Regions from separate parts of the Homo sapiens genome. Here region 1 is linked to region 2. A link means that fine-mapping ties the variant in region 2 to the expression of a gene that starts in the linked region. Tissue or cell type: whole blood. Region 2 holds a variant in brackets; the other region holds the start of a gene. All regions are shown on one strand. Distances are from middle to middle.

Evidence for each region. PIP is the estimated chance that this variant, and not a neighbour inherited with it, causes the effect.
Region 1: SHMT1 starts here. The variant in region 2 is fine-mapped to the expression of SHMT1 in whole blood (TOPMed, PIP above 0.99).

The regions. Positions count from the first base shown.
Region 1 is chr17:18,361,993-18,364,673 of GRCh38, forward strand. It overlaps SHMT1 (serine hydroxymethyltransferase 1), which reads right to left and starts at 1,558. Exons shown (of 12, transcript NM_004169.5): 1 at 1,380-1,558. RefSeq lists a silencer at 1,183-1,652.
Region 2 is chr17:18,321,033-18,323,683 of GRCh38, forward strand. SMCR8 (SMCR8-C9orf72 complex subunit) reads left to right here. Exons shown (of 2, transcript NM_144775.3): 2 at 1,585-2,651. The coding sequence ends at 2,038. Among named protein-coding and RNA genes, the nearest start is that of SMCR8, 7.1 kb to the left of the region's middle. RefSeq lists a silencer at 457-649 and enhancers at 1,161-1,662, 1,663-2,162. The variant G/A (reference allele first, on the strand shown) is at 1,123.

The sequences.
Region 1 (2,681 bases), 41 kb after region 2:
CCAGCCTCCCCATGCCTCCAAATCTTACCTGGGCCTCTGTCACATAAGAGGATCCAGCCAAGGATCTGCTCAGGGAACTAACTTGTTGCACATCTTCTATCTCACACACATTTTGTGTTCTCTTCTTTACAGAAGAGGAAATTGAGGCCCAGGGAGCTAACTTGTCTAAAGCCATATAAGAGCCAGAATCTGAACAATGGTTTCTCTTCAGTTCCAAGGCCTTGTCCCAGGACATTGCACTAAATAAAAACACAATTACCCACTTCCGTTCCAAGTTCCCCCAAGTAATAAATTTACGTTATTTCTTTTCTTTTTTTTCTTTTCTTTCTCTCTCTTTCTTTCTTTTGAGATAGAGTCTCACTCTGTCACTCAGGCTGGAGTGCAGTGGCGTGATCTCCGCTCACTGCAACCTCCACCTCCCGGGTTCAAGCGATTCTCCTGCCTCAGCCTTCCGAGTAGCTGGGATTATAGGTGTGTGCCACCATGGGCAGCCAGGTTTTTTTGTATTTTTAGTACAGACGGGGTTTCACCATGTTGGCCAGGCTGGTCTCCAACTACTAACCTCAAGTGATCCGCCCACCTCGGCCTCCCAAAATGCTGGGATTACAGGCATGAGCCACCGCGCCCGGCCTACAATGTTATTTCTGCAAGAACCTAAACTGGTGTTTCCAGTCTATTCTCTGGGTAACTGCCCGATTGAAGGCCCGCATCTGTGCTGACCTCAGCTGGACCAAGGGTCACTTAACTCCCGGAATCTCGAAGCCAAGGCACCGGGCCAAGAACTTCACAGTGCAACATTTGTCTCCTAGAACAGGGGGTGGCAGATTGCGGGCAACAGGAAGAGCTCATTCCCCACAGGGATCTGGTGGCACGGGCCAAAAGTGGAGCGACCCTGCGCGCAGCCTTTAGGGGCGCAGGCTTTGAGAACCCGGGTTCTATTCCGGGCTCTGCCATTTAAGTTGCCTCCTTTCTCAGGGCCCCACCACCTTCCTCACCTGTAAAATGGGGGAAACAGTAGCACTTGACTTGCAGCTTTGTTGTGAAGGAGCTAGGATTGTTTAAATCGAAAATGCTCAACGAGAAAAGTGTTCAGTGGAGAGCTACTACTCACATCCCCGATAAGCCTTCGCATTCTTGCCAAAGGCCACGGGCCGCCACCCCATCATACCGAATGTGCCTGGAACTGGGGCGCTGCGGCTGGCCGCCGCCCGATCCCCAGCCCAGGCGCGACCCAAGCGCTCCCCTCCCGTCATTGCGGCTGCAGAGGGTGGGGTACGGCGGGGGACAGCGAGGACGCCGAAGCACCCCCCGGGCTCTGGGACGCCGCGGCCCTCGGACCCGAAGCCGCCCACCTACCGGAACACGGCCCGCGCACGTACCTAGCGACGCCTCCGTCCTACGCCGCCGCCGGTGCCACCAGTCCCAGACCCGCTGACCCAACGCCCCGCGCACCGCCGCGGGCCAGCCACGTGACCAGCCGCTCCAACCCCAAACCCCGAACTTGGCGCTGGACCGCTCGAGCTCAGGAAGGTGCACTCTGCGCGCCAGGCTTGGGCTTGGCCCCGCCCCCGGAGGCGCCCAATCAGAGAGCGCAGCCAAGCATGGGCCGCCACCAAACGCACCCGCGCTATTGGCTGCGGCGCAGCGGCGGGCAGGGCCTGTTTCTCCGGGGCGGGCCGGAGGCCGCGTAGTGCAGCTGCGCACCTGGGGCAGGGACCTGCAGAACTGACCCGCTTTGGCTGCAGGGCTGGTGTGTGGACCAAGATTTCCAGGAAGACTACACAGGGCCTTCCTCACTTAAGCCTGTCGCTTGGGCCGTGGGATTATGAGTGAATTTTGTTCATGGTACTACTTTTAGTTTGCAGGGTGGTCATTTAAAGTAGGACAAATGTGCGTCCAAACTGCAACATTATTACTCTGTAGGTGTATAATCCAAGAGCAGACACTTTATTATTATTATTTTTGTTATTTTTTATTTTTATTTTTTTGAGACAGGGTCTCACTCTGTCCCCCAGGTTGAAGTAGAGATGGGGGTCTAACTATGTTGCCTCCCAGGAGGCGGAGGTTGCAGTGAGTCGAGATCGCGCCACTGCACTCCAGCCTGGGGGACGGAGCGAGACAACGTCTCAAGAAGAATAAAATAAGATAAATAAAATACTGACACACAATAAGGACTCAATGAACATTACCTATTGTTAAGAATGATAAAAACCGGGGCCACATGTCAGGACCACCTGAGGCTGCGTCATAAATTTTTTTATTTGTCAAATGATAACAATAATTATTATAAGAATGATAAAAACCGGGCGCAGTGGCTCACCCCTGTAATTCCAGCACTTTGGGAGGCCGAGGCAGATGGCTTGAGCCTAGGAGTTCAAGACCAGCCTGGGCAAAATGGTGAAACCTTGTCTCTACAAATAATTTTAAAATTAGCTGGGTGTGGTGGCAGTCGCCTGTAGTCCCAGCTACTTGGGGGGCTGAATGGGAGGATCACTTGAGCCTGGGAGGCAGAGGTTGCAGTAAGCAATGATCTTGCCTCTGTACTCCAGCCTGGGCAACAGAGTGAGACCCTCATCATCTCGAAAAACAAACAAACAAAAAATACAAAAAAAACTTTTTTTTTTTTTTGAGACAGAGTCTTGCTCTGTCGCCCAGGCTGGAGTGCAGTGGCGCGATCTCGG
Region 2 (2,651 bases):
CATTCTTCATTACAGTGTTAGCTCCCAGGTCAATGTTGGGATGTTATAGATGCTCTGTAAATGATTGTTAAATATACAAGAAGATAAAACCCAGGAAGGAAAAAGTACTGTGAGAGTACCTTGGTCCCAAGTCACCGTCAGTCCTTCTTACACCATACCTGTCTGACGTAAACCCTAAATGTCTGGGCCCTACAGGGCAGTCCCTGCTGCTCTGGGGAAGCTGCTTCAGGAGGGTGTTTAAGGAACCGCTCCCCTCACTGAGTGAACACTGGCTTTTCCTGGCTCTGATGTGCCAGGCATTGGGGGCATGAGACCAGATCAGGTGCAGTTCTGGGACCCTAGAATCTTGGAGCTGCTTGTCCAGTGGGGAGAAGCCAATGAACAAACAGCAGTCACCCCACTGGTCAGTGCTAGGCTAAAAGTAGTGATGGCGATGACAGCAGCGCCTACCGAGGGCCAGCATTGTCCTAAGCACAACTCATTTTGTCTCCACAGCGACCCCATGAGGGATGTAATAGTAGTAACTGGCCTGTACAGTGGCTCATGCCTGTAATCCCAAATCTTTGGGAGGCCAAGGCAGGAGGATCACTTGAGCTCAGCAGTTCAAGACCAGCCTGGGAAACATAGCAAACTTCCATCTCTACAAAAAATTATCTGGGTGTGGTGGCATACGCCTATAGTACCAAATACTTGGGAGGCCAAGGTGGGAGGATTCCTTGAGCCCAGGAGATGAAGGCTGCAGTGAGTCATGATCGTGCTACTGCACTCCAGCCTGCGCAACAGAGCAAGACCCTGTCTCTAAATAAATAAAAACAGTAGGAATGTTATCTCCATCTTATAGGTGAGGCTCAGAGAGGTTAATGAATTTGGCCAAGGTCACAGCAGGAAAGCAGGAGAGGATCAGGGAAGGCTGAATATGCTTTAAATTAAGCTAAGTACAAGAGAGAGAGGTTATTTCAGGCAGAAAGAAGAGGTTTTTTTGTTTGTTTTGTTTTTTAAGACAGAGTCTCGCTCTGTTGCCCAGGCTAGAGTGCAGTGGCACGATTTTGGCTCACTGCAAGCTCTGCCTCCTGGGTTCACAGCATTCTCCTGCCTCAGCCGCCCAAGTAGCTGGGACTACAG[G/A]CACCTGCCACCACACCCGGCTAATTTTTTGTATTTTTAGTAGAGACAGGGTTTCACCGTGTTAGCCAGGATGGTCTCGATCTCCTGACCTCACGATGCGCCTGCCTCGGCCTCCCAAAGTGCTGGGATTACAGGTGTGAGCCATTGCACCTGGCCTGAACAAAGAGGTTTGTAATTCTAAGGCCCCACTGAAAGCTTGCCATGGCTCCAAAAAAGAGTCCATTCAGCAGGAATCGGACCACAAAGGGCTTTGTGGGCCACCCAGCGTGTTTTTGACCTTGGTCATAAGAGTGGTGAGGAGCCCTTTGAAGATTACAATGATCAGATTTGTCTTCCAGGAAGAGCCAGTGCATGCTGGCTAGGTGGATGCTGGCCTGGGGACAGGAGGCCTCACCTCCCAAGCTTCTGCCTCCACTTTCCCGGCCCTTGCCCTTCCTCCTGACCTTGGCCTGTCTGTTTCAGAGTGGCCTCCCCTGCCGGTGCCGGTACCCTCCATGCCCTGAGCCGCTACAGCCGCTACACGAGCATCCTGGACCTTGACAACAAAACCCTGCGCTGCCCCCTTTACAGAGGCACCCTGGTGCCCCGCCTGGCAGACCACCGCACACAGATCAAGCGGGGCAGCACCTACTACCTGCATGTCCAGAGCATGCTCACCCAGCTCTGCTCCAAGGCCTTCCTCTACACCTTCTGCCACCACCTGCACCTGCCTACCCACGACAAGGAGACAGAGGAGCTGGTAGCCAGCCGCCAGATGAGCTTCCTAAAGCTGACCCTGGGTCTGGTGAATGAGGATGTTAGGGTGGTCCAGTACCTGGCTGAGCTGCTGAAGCTGCACTACATGCAGGAATCTCCAGGGACCAGCCACCCCATGCTCAGGTTTGACTATGTCCCCAGCTTTTTGTATAAAATCTGAGGTCGGTCCCAGACACTGTGACCAAGACCTGTGACTCAGGGTATGGGGAGGGGAGGGGTTGGCATGACCAAACAGTTGCCTGAGCTGGACTGTTTAAGTTTCTGGTGTCTGGCAGCATGGTTCCCACGTGGCTCCTAGTAGTTTTTAAGTTGGACATGGGCAGAAGTGGAGCCTGGCTCCCTCTAAAGGCGTCTGGAGGGATGGTGACAGCTACATTTGGCTCCCTGGTGAAGAGTGGCCCCTGGATATGGAGGGGGCCTTGGTTTTCTGAGGACTGGCAGCCAGGGCAGAAGGGAAGCCACCAGTCCCTTGGTGGGGCAGGGTGAGGGCAGGAAGGCCAAAGCCTGATGGGAGGAGCACACTGGCTGTATTCAGCATTGCCGGACACTTGAGTGGCAAAATGAACGAGGGTGACAGCCAGGTAACTGTTGTGGTTTGGTGGAAAACAGGAGGGCAGAACACCCATCGCCTCCTTCAGACCCAGATGCAGCCCTTTATTTGCTTCCTGGAGCCCACTGTCCTAGGGGAGGCCCTGGACCAGCCAGTGGGGGTGAGAAAGGCTGCCACCCTCTGGGTCGTGGGAAACATGCGACCTTGGCCTCAGGGCCACAGA